Regions from separate parts of the Homo sapiens genome. Here region 2 is linked to region 1. The links come from fine-mapping of genetic effects on plasma protein levels. A gene starts in region 1. The other region holds a variant in brackets. All regions are shown on one strand. Distances are from middle to middle.

Region 1 (5,363 bases):
GAGACTTCTTCAAGCCTGTCCCGGAATGGGCCCCAGAGCTGTGAGTCAGAAAGGACCAGTGCTCAGCCCACAGACACTCTCCCACTCTCTCACCCACAGAATCTCAGCTCCAGCATGCTGCTCCAGCCTGCACACCTCCGAGGTGGGGCTCACCCTCCCGGCAGCCCCAGCCACAGGGGATGGCCCTGACCCTCTGGCCCTCAGTGCATCTGTTCCAGAGCCGCAAGTTCCTTGACAGCTTTGCTTCATGAGGGGAAATGTCTTGGACACATCCCTGACTGGCTGAGGACAAAACACAGGGCTGGCCTTAAGTCAGGGTGCTGGGGACAGTGGCTTAGCTGTACTTGGCTGATGTTAGGTGCAGGTCAGGCACTCCCCCAAAAGGGGGGGCTCTCTGGGACTGCGCAATGCGAAGGGGAATGAGGCTAAGAGTCAGAACTGAATCTGATGAAAATTGTGCCTCAGTTTCCCCATCTGTTTGGTGAGTGAGTTGCATCCAATGACCCCAGAGGTTACCATTCTGCCGTCACACCACTGCCGCCTGCAGCCCACTTGGGACTATCAGCCGTCGTAACTGCCCACCACGCCTTCGCCCTGCCCCCCTCAGCTGCATTGAAGAAGCCCAAGAAATGCCAACAGATGCTATGTCAGGACGAAGCACTTGCCTTCCCTGACCTGCAAGCTCTAAAGAGCCTGACTCCCCAGCAGGGGATACCTGAGGCCCTGGAGAATCCACTCTCTCCAGCTCCAACTTCCCTCAAGGCAAAGGGAACCCCCTTTACTAATCCACTCCCTGTTTCACTATCTGAACTGCAGTCTCCTAGCTCAGCAAGCCCCCAGGCCAAGGTCATCCGGACCAGGCCCCTGTTAAGAGCCATCCTTGAACCAGCAGCAATGATGAACAGATAATCTAAAACTGCACTTGTTCCTAGGGTAGGAATAGACCTCTAGAATACATCCATATGAATACAGCACACTCTGTCTCATGGATATGTGTGCGTAGAGACAGATCTCTGTGTAACCTCCCCCTTCACTTCTCCACCCTGAAGTCAGGCCCAGAAGAGCCACAGCTGGGCCTACACAGCCTCCAGGGTGCCAGCCACTCTCCACTGCCCAAATCCACCCCTGCAGCAACCCTGCCCCATATCCTGAGGGTTGTCGACGTGTTATGGGACCAGCAGCCCAGACACAGGCTCCGGCAAAGGGCACCAAGGCCAGGGAGCAGTGAATGCCGGCTTGCTGGACTCCCCGTGGAGACGCCCCATCATCTCTGTCTCCCTGACTCTGGAGGAAGTGGATGCTGGGTTTTTCAATCTCTGTCTCTGTGTCTCTCTTGGTCTTTCTCAGTCTCTCTCTCCCACAATGAAGCAGAGAGAAGGCAGATGGCCCTGGCCTCACTGTCCATGCACACTGGCCCCTAGTAGGCCTCTATCGTCTATAGCAATGCAGCAGCCAGTCCAGCTTCTAGGCTATGGAGCCTCAGAATCTTCTTCCTGTGAGCTGGAGTGCTGGCCCCAGGGAGAAGCAGAGGAGGAAAGGTGTGGGACTCAGGGGGCCTCTGGGCAAGCAGAGGACAGGCTGAGCAGCGAGAATAATGGCCCCAAAAATACAGGGGGGAAAGTGGCAGGGGCAGGGGAGAGCACAGGTGGGCTAGAGGAGAGCAGCAGCTGGCAGCTGCTGTCAGAGCTGGTTAAAAACCACGGAGGCCTTGAGGTTGGCGGGCTCCACACCCTCGCCAAAGGTGACGAGGAAGTACATGACCTTGCGGATCTTGGCCAGGTCCGACAGGCGCTCCCCAAACTCCAGGGCGTCGGCCTCATTCCAATCTATGGCATCCGAGTCCTCCTTGCGCCAGAAGATGGCAGTGGGGTCCAGCAGCTGGCGTGTCATGAGGTTGGTGAGGTCAGGCGTCCAGTTCTGCGAGGTGCCTGTGATGGTGACCTTGCCCGGCTTGTCCAGCACGACATTCCAGCGCTCGAACTGTAGCCGCTGCTGCTGGGTGAAGTTGAGGCGGTACACAGACTCCGCTGGCTGCAGCAGCTTCTCCCCATCCTGGCGCTTCTCCCCGCGCTGCTTCAGGCTCTCCACGCGTAGCCGCATCTGCCTGGTCAGGCCCTGGTCCAGGACCAGCGGCATGTCCAGCTGCGGCTGCTGCGGCCTGTCCTCCGCCATGGCCCAAGTGCTGCTGCCACCAACGCCAAGGACCCAAGTGGGCTGGAGCCTGGGGCCGTGGAGAGAAGAGGCCACCAAAGGGGGGCCCCACCTACTTTCTGCCCTTCCCTCTTCCCCTCCCTTTGCCACTGGCTCTTCCCAGCCCCACTCAGTTCTCAAAATGGGGTGTGTGTCAGGGGTGGGAGTCCCCATCTGCCTCCACTCCAGTCCCCGCAGAAGCGATAATGCAGGCCCTGCAGGCAGGCGGAAGGTGGCAGGTTCCTTGGGGACCAGGTCGCTGATGTCAATTGCTGTGGCAACCGCCCTGACTACCAGGGCTGGGCTGGGTGCTGGCTTGTTTGTGAAGATGAGAGCACTTCGTAAGTGCACTGATGGGGAGGGTGGTGGGGACCACTCCTCACTGGAGGTACACAGGAGAAGATGCAAGACCCGCAGGAGCAGGTGGAGAAGGCAGGACCAGAGAGGGCTTGGTGATTGGAGATCTGAAGTCACCTAAGTTAAACCTTGGAGCTACCCCTGACGCCCGCCTCCCTCTCACTCCTCCACACCCAATCACCAAAGCCTGTCGATTCTGCTTCCCAAACACCCCGGGACCCTTCCCCTCCAGTCCCATTGACAGGATCTCAGCCCAGCTACCGTATCTCTCACCCAGACCCGTGGTTCTCAAGACTTGAGTGAGCATCAGACTCACTCTCAGGACTTAACACACAGATTGCTGGACCCCCTCCCAGAACTCCTGGTTTATCAGGGCTCTGTGGGCCTGAGAATCTGCATTCCTAACCACCTCCCAGGTGACATGCTGCTGGGCCAGGGACTGTGCCTTGAGCATTACTGACCCGGATGACACTGATGGCTGGCTGTGCCGCAGCCCTGCACCATGGCCACAACAGGACAAGGCTTCACTTCTACCCAAATCCCACCACTTACTCCACCTGAATTAATCCTCAGTTTCCCCCAGGGGCCGAGGAAGAATCTGGCAAATGTTTATATCCCCAGGGCCCGGGGCGGAACCAGAAGCTCAGCCTTTATACTGGGGAAATGAAAGAACTGGAGTGTGAGTGGAGCCGGAGTTGGGGAGAGAGTGGGGATGGGAGTTGGGGAGCGGCCGTCGCCACAACACGCCACACACAGAAAAGAGGACAGAGTCAAGGCCAAGGTATCACAACGGAAAACAATCTGAAGGGTCTAGTGGACCACAAGCACGGTCAATTGTGAGATGGTGGCTAATCAATCAGTGGGATCCTGGGCTACCTGAACAGCAGAGGGGCACCAAGGGAGACAGAATACCCGGTCCTGTTAAAACCACACTGCAAGCCCTGGGGTCAGTTCTGGGGGTCATTGGCAGAAATTCCCCCAAGGGTATTTGAGAGAACCATACAGCTAGATGTCAAACTGCCTGATCCTCACAGAACCTTTTGCTTTGTAGCTGGAGGGGCAGGGGAGAGGGGAACAACTTGGCTAAGGAACTACCATGGGAGGCTTCCCTTTCCTCCACATGGGGGAGCTGTTTCTAACCTTCCCAGCACCACATTCTGCTTTTTATTTGTTGAGTTGCTCAGTTTTTGCCTGTGACACACAGTCCTGAGAGGGTAGGAAGTGTGTCTTGTCATTACTCTAGGCCAGCAACCAGAACGGGGCCTGCCACACAGAGGCCTCAGAAATGCTTGTTGAATGAATGAACGAATGATCGAATGAATGAATGAATGAACGGATGAATGAGTGAATGACACTGACAAGGGACAGGTGATGTGATGGACCACGGGACACAAGCCCAAGGCCAAGAGGAAGGTGGGCAGGTGGGGAGACAGTACACAGGTACTGGCCAGGGCCAAAATGAAGTGAGCAAGATGGCTGGAAGGTGAGGTCAGAGAGACTGGGCCTTTGGCTGAAGACCTCCAGGGAGAGCAGTTCCGGGCCCGGGCTGTGGCATGGCAGCAGGTGACTGAGGCGGCTGAAGGTGAAGGCTGATAGAAAGGAGATGGAGAACTAAGACAAGGGTAAAAGGGCAAAGCGAGAGGGCAGGACGTTAGCCACATGGACACAGTAAAGCCTGGGACACAGCAGTTCTTGGGGTAGAATGGGCTGGAAAATGGCAGGAACCAAGCCCTTTGTGCCCAGGTGACTGGCCAGGGCAGCTGGCTGGTGGAGACAGCAACACAGTGGGCTGAGGGTGGGAGTCCAGTGAAGGAGCCAAGTGCTTGTATGGGGACGCTGTGGTCCGGGCAGCACTGGGAAGGAGGATCCCCTATTTCTGGATCCTGAGGGATGGGATGAGGTGGGTGTGATCAACTTCTACTGATGAGGATTTAGGGGCACAAGACCCCTGGGGAGGGTCTGAGCAGAGGGGCACCGACCTTCTGGAGGCCGAAGGTGGGGGGCAGTTGTGACGGGAGCTTGAGTCTCACAGACTGGGCGGGAGGGACGAGCGGTGGGAGCCAAGGGAAGGCCTGGGGGGAAAAGGAATGGAAGAGGGAGGGGAGGAGGCAGAGGGGGTGGACTGAGGCTTGTGGGCAAGGGAGCAGGCAGGATGCAGGAGGCTGCAGCTGGGGACAGGGCCCACTGATGTCCACAGACCTCTGCTCAGCCATCGGACACCTTGGGAGGACCCACCCAAGGCTGGATGTAGCAATGAATACAGAGGAGAAAAGCAAGCTCTAAACTTGCAGATGTAATTGCAAAAATGCATATAAAAAAACAAAACAAGGCTGGGCACAGTGGCTCACGCCTGTAATCCCAGCACCTTGGGAGGCCGAGGCGGGTGGATCACCTGAGGTCAAGAGTTTGAGACCAGCCTGGCCAACGTGGTGAAACCCCATCTCTACTAAAAATACAAAAATTAGCCGGGTATGGTGGCAGGCGCCTGTAATCCCAGCTACTCAGGAGGCTGAGGCAGGAAAATCACTTGAACCCGGGAGGTGGAGGTTACGGTGAGCCGTGATCGCACCATTGCACTCTAGCCTGGGTGACAAGAGCGAAACTCCAACTCAAAAAAAAACCAAAACAAGCAAAATCCTCTTTAACACCAAGTGGAAAAAAAACTAGAAGGAACTCCCTCTCCCTCTCCCTCTCCCTCTCCGTCTCCCTCTCCGTCTCCCTCTCCCTCTCCCTCTCCGTCTCCCTCTCCCTCTCCCCACGGTCTCCCTCTCATGTGGAGCCGAAGCTGGACTGTACTGCTGCCATCTCGGCTCACT
Region 2 (5,363 bases), 13 kb before region 1:
GGAGGGGCTGAGCAGGGTACCTCCCCCACACCTCCCCAGGCTCTTGGCCCCCCAGCCCAACAACCTAATATGTCCATATGGCCCAGAGGTGAGAGAACACAGCTGGCTTTGAGAGGGGAGCTAAGCCCACACAAGGGCACAGGCATGGCATTGCACAGACCCTTAACCTCTCTTTTGACCTGTTTCCTCACCTGTAAAATGAGGCTGAATCTAACAGCAGGTGCCCATCTCAGAGCTAGTGAAGGAATTAGGTAATGCAATCAAAGCAGGCAGTGCAACTTTCGGCTGACAGAGCACGCACTGGCAAACGCTGGCTGTTACTATTGTGAATGGTGTTAATAACTACTGTCTGCTGCCCTGTACAGTTTATAAAGCACATCTGCATCCAGGATCTTCCATGGCTGTTGAGAGGCCTGAGTAAGTGGATGGTGGGAACCCCATGGTGAGCCTGCTGCGGTGGCCAGGGTGTTGCTATGGTCACTGCACACTGTGAACGCCTCCAGGGAGCTGGTGGGGGCAGGGGGCAGTGAATTAACCGTGAACATGTAAGAGAAAGGCCTTTGGAAGAAACTCTTTCTAAAGGCAAGGAGCTCTGCCGTGTTTTTATCTGCTGACTCCTGAGCAAGACTGGCAAAGTGGCCTGGGTGGCCTCCTGCAGCAGCTGACCTGACACCTGCAGAAGGGTTCATCATTGGGTGCCAGGACCACTGCCATCTGCCCCCAGTCTGCCTGGGGGCCCTGACAGAATCCAGCACACACAGGATGCCAATACCCCTCCAGGAAGGGACTGAGTTTCCATATCAGGTTCTGCTGAAGGGTGACACTGAGCCTAGCCCACATTCAGGACTCATGCAGGCTGGATGAATGCAGGATGAACTTTTATTACTACTGGGGTTTTTCTTTTTGTTTTTGAAACAGGGTCTTGCTCTTTAGCCCAGGATGGAGTGCAGTGGTGCGATCATGGCTCACTATAAACTCAACCTCCTGGGCTCAAGCAATCCTCCCCTCTCAGCCTCTAGAGTAGCTGAGACTACAGGGGTACATCATCACACCCAGCTAATTTTTCATTTTTGTAGAGATGGGGTCCCACTATGCTGCCCAGGCTGGTCTCAAACTCCTGGACTCAAGCAATCCTTCTACCTTGACCTCCCAAAGTGCTGGGATTATAGACATGAGCCACTGTACCCAGCCAATTACTGGGCTCTTTAAGCTGAGCTGCTGTCATCTTCCCAGCTCACCCATGTACCTGCTTAGCTCCCTTCTCAAACACAGCTGTGTTCTCTCACCTCTGAGCCACGTCCTCTTCCTTGCCCACCAAGGCCTACTCTGTACCTCAAGTCTCAGCTTAGAAGCTAGTTCCTCTAGGAGCCTCTGCTACCTAATTTCAGAAATCAGGCTGCCAGAGGGCCCCTGGAGGCAGGCTGAGGGCAGGGCTTCCTGGAGAGGGGCTGGGCATAGCCCCAGTGCCCCTGGCCACACCATACTGCTGGTGCTGGACTGTGCTTCATGCCTCCTTACCCTTGCCGGGGAGATCCTGGTGGGCCCACCTCTTAGACGGCTCCCTGACCTGCATGCCAAAGGCTCGGTCTGGGTGCCACAGCGGCTCCAGGACCCCTCAGTTCGGCAGAGGGGACTGTGGGGATGAAAGGGCCTGGTACTGCCCAACTAATTTTACAGAGGAGGAAACAGGCTCTGAGATGGTGTGACTTGTCCAAGGCCACACAGCAAATTGATGATGGGGCATGCAGGAGAGGCCTGGCTCCTGACTCCCCACCTGGTGCTCCCCGCCAGGCCCGTGGGAAGCCCCCTCAGCCCCGGACGCCCAGGGCACATACACACTCACCAGAACTCACCGTCGTCCTGCACGGTCACACCCATCTTCTCCCGCTCACTCTTGCTCACTTTCTGCCACTCCTCCGAGCTGGGGTGTCAGGGCCGGGGAGGAGAAAGGGAGCTGTCTAAGAGGCAG[C/G]CCCACCAGAATCTGTCTGGCAAAGGCGAGGAGGCACGAGGGGCAGTCTTGCACCAGGCCTCCAGCGGCACGGTGTGGCCAGGGGCACTGAGGCCATGCCCAGCCCCTCTCCAGGAAGCCCTGCCTGTCTCCTCCCACAAGGGACCGTGAGCTGCCACCATGACAGGGGCTGGGAGGTCTGAAAGTAAAGCTGCAGACTGGGGGGAAGGGGGGTGCGACCCCCAGTGAAGAGGGCTCCTTCACTTAGCACCTGGGCTCCACTCCCATCTTGGCCTTACCAGGGCCATAAGCCAAGCACAGAGGAGTCCCCCATTTGCTCAGGGCTGTGGCCTCCCTCCCTGCTCCCCTCCCGCACCCACTCACCAAGCTGGTCTCTACACCCCTGATGGCCTCCAGCCCCAGGCCTTTCTTGTGCTCAATCCATCACCCCATACAACCACTGCAAAGTAATTCTCCCTTCTTCGTTCCTAGTGTCATCCTCCCCCAGATCCTTCAAGGCCCAGCCCCAGTGCCAACTCCTCCAAGAAGCCCACCCGTCCTTGTCCAAGCCCTCATGCCCTGTGCCTGCACCCCCATCCCCAGGCCTCACGTGTCACTCCAGGGCCCGTTCCACTCCCGCTCGCCCCAGGGGTTGCGCAGGCGGATCATGTCCAACTTCTCTGACTTGAAGAAGGCCAGTAGGCCGTGGCCCAGGCGCACCTTGCGCACATCAGTGACGGCGTATGCGTGGCCCTTTACCAGGCCGCACGCCAGGCGGGCCTCCATGTCAGCTGCTGTCACTGCCTGTGGAGGGACACAGTTGCTCAGAGAGGCAGGGCCACACTGGAACCCAGACCAGGGACTCAGGTGCTGGAGGGCTAGGAGGCTGCACGGGACCTACAGGATGGGATGGGAATTGCAGTCATGGGGCAGTGCTGTGTTCACAGAGCTTTAAAACCCCCATGGGCAGCAGTCTCAGTAAAGGAAGGTGCCCATAGTGGGTCAGCCCAGGGGAATGCTGGGGCCCACGTGCACTGGCTCAGCTGTTGTTAAATATTCGGGAATATTTAAATTGTTAAATATTCCAGGAATTGTTAAATATTCAGGAACATTGTTTTGTTTTTTGTTTTTTTTTTGGATGGAGTTTTGCTCTTGTTGCCCAGGCTGGAGTGCAATGGCGCGATCTTGGCTCACCACAATTTCTGCCTCCCGGGTTCAAGCAATTCTCCTGCCTCAGCCTCCCGAGTAGCTGGGATTACAGGCATGTGCCACCATGCCCGGCCAGGAATATTGTTAATAGCTGGTTGTTAAATGTGGGTAGTTGGAAATCAGCCATGGTGGGAGTATTTACACCACAGTAATTAGCAAATGCTACAAACCGGGGCTTTTTACTTTGCTGGAGGCAGTTTACCAGCACAGCACAGGGTCTGCTAAAGTTGGGTTTGAACTTGGCTTTCACTGGGCCTCAGCTTTCTCATCCAAAACACGAGCAAGTAATGAAATCAGGACCACCCTCAGATGCACAGACGTTCATAACCCAAGAGGATCAGAAAAGAAGTTTTGGTTGAACAGTGCGGGAAAGGCTTTTCACAGCCTAGAGGGTCTGGGCAGGGGGTTGCACCTTCCAACTTCTCCCCTCCCCCACGAGGCTGAGGGTCTGAATACGTAGGAGCTGACCTGAGCGTGGGATGTCACAGTTGTCTCCCATCTCAGTCAGCGAGGGTGAAGGGGAGGGGTCGCCTCTGGGGACTGCCGTGTTCTCACCTTGATGGAGGCACTGATGAGGCCGCCCCGGCTGTGCACCTTTAACATGCGCTCAAAGAGCTGGTTCCTCTTAGTCTCATCGTTGGCAAAGTCACCCTCGGTCAGGTCGATGGGCTCAGAAACACCACCCGTGAAGTCCACCAGTGCGTCTGCTGTGTTGCCTCCATCCAGGGCCTGGTAACAGCCTGCCAGTCTGGGAAGCAATGTGGAAAGACTTCCCAGCTCATGCTCCCCAGCCAGGCTGCATCCTTTACCTCATAGGGGAGGTTTTTGAAACTCAGAGGGGTCAAACAACCTGTTACAGTCACGCAGCAGGCCACGGCGGAGCCAACACTGGAACCCAGTTCTTAACACTCGGGCCAACATATAAGGCTTAAATTCCCCTAAGCCTTAGTGGCTCAATCTTAAAAAATCAGCTGTCCAAAAAAAAAAAAGCAACTCTTTTCCAAAGTGCCAACAATGGTCAGGGGGAGGGGAAGGAGTTACTGTCGGATGGGTATAGACCTCCTGCTGGGAATGATGAGAAGGTTCTGGGGATAGATAGTGGTGATGGCCCATAGCACTGTGATCATAATGAATGCCACTGAATTGTATGTTTCCATATGGTTAAAATGAGAAGCATTATGTTTTGTCTATTTTACCACAATGAAACTGTGTTTTTTCAAAAAACAAAAAACAACCAAGGCCACTGGGTCGACCTGCATCCAGGTGGTGGAGACTCAGTGGCCACCAGGGGGCTGGCTTTCCTTTCTTAGGATTGAAAGTGGAACCTGCCAATGTGTTTTCTTGGGTTTTTGATGTTGGGAGTTTTTGTCTTTCCTTTTCCTCTCTCCCCCTTTCTCTTGTTTTCTATCTCTCTCTCTCCTTGCTCCTGCCCCTACACACACATTTTTTCAGCAAGATTGACAAATGGGCCTAGCAGGAGGAACCAGAGAGTGGCTCACCTAGAGCTGGCGAGGCTGGCCTCTGACCCCACTGCCCCTCCTCCCTCCTCCCTCCTGGCCTAGGCGTATCCCTGCCCTGCAACGGCCTGCGCGAGTCACTCTTCCCCAGGGTTCCCCACAGCTCAGCAAAACTTTGCTTGTGCCCATTCTATGCTGGGCTCTGTGTTGGGCACTGGGGACACAGAAGCAGAAGGCACGGAGCAGAAGGAGGGGTCAGCAAAGACAGAATGGACAGTCAGCCAGGCAGAGGCGGATGGTGGACAAGAGGGAGGCCCAGCAGGCGGGGAAGGCAGGCACGTGGCCCACCCTGCACAACCAGGCCCCAGCTCAGTTACCACTTCCCCAACCAAGGCCCCAGGCAGGGCATGGCAGCATGAACCTTCGAGAATGGTCCTAAATGTGAGTGCTGCCTCTGCCCCCAGCTACCTACAGGATGTTGCCTGGGCCTCAGTCTTCTCCCCCTAAAATGGGAGTAACCAACATTCCTCTCCTTACAGGGCCCAGGCCTCCACCCCACCCAGCACAGGCTCAGCTGACTATGCCCTCAGGCCTGGCGGTTGAGCCTGCTGCGTGCCTGCACCAGCCCCTCACTTCTCTGTGCCTAAAGCCCTGGCTAACGGAATACCACGAGGAGCCCATCCGGTGCCACCCCCGTCTGGGCCTCCCACCCACCTGCCTGCTGCTGGCACCTACTTGGCATAGGCCTT

Direction of the effects. Positions count from the first base shown, and alleles are read on the strand shown. Strength reflects both the effect of a copy and how common the allele is.
As copies of G replace C in region 2, the plasma level of the protein whose gene starts at base 2,172 in region 1 goes up (weak association).

Evidence for each region. PIP is the chance, under the fine-mapping model, that this variant and not a neighbour inherited with it causes the effect. Protein levels are from antibody-based Olink assays in UK Biobank. Linkage for the fine-mapping came from a reference panel and not from the study's own genotypes, which makes the PIPs less certain.
Region 2: its variant is fine-mapped to the plasma level of the OMP protein (UK Biobank, PIP 0.96).

The regions. Positions count from the first base shown.
Region 1 is chr11:77,099,649-77,105,011 of GRCh38, reverse strand. It overlaps OMP (olfactory marker protein), which reads right to left and starts at 2,172. Exons shown (of 1, transcript NM_006189.1): 1 at 1,681-2,172. The coding sequence starts at 2,172. The coding sequence ends at 1,681. All of the region lies in intron 3 of CAPN5 (calpain 5), which reads right to left.
Region 2 is chr11:77,112,784-77,118,146 of GRCh38, reverse strand. CAPN5 (calpain 5) reads right to left here. Exons shown (of 13, transcript NM_004055.5): 4 at 5,350-5,363; 5 at 3,713-3,905; 6 at 2,559-2,752; 7 at 1,844-1,921. Among named protein-coding and RNA genes, the nearest start is that of OMP, 13 kb to the right of the region's middle. RefSeq lists enhancers at 3,239-3,832, 3,833-4,428, 4,429-5,023. The variant C/G (reference allele first, on the strand shown) is at 1,970.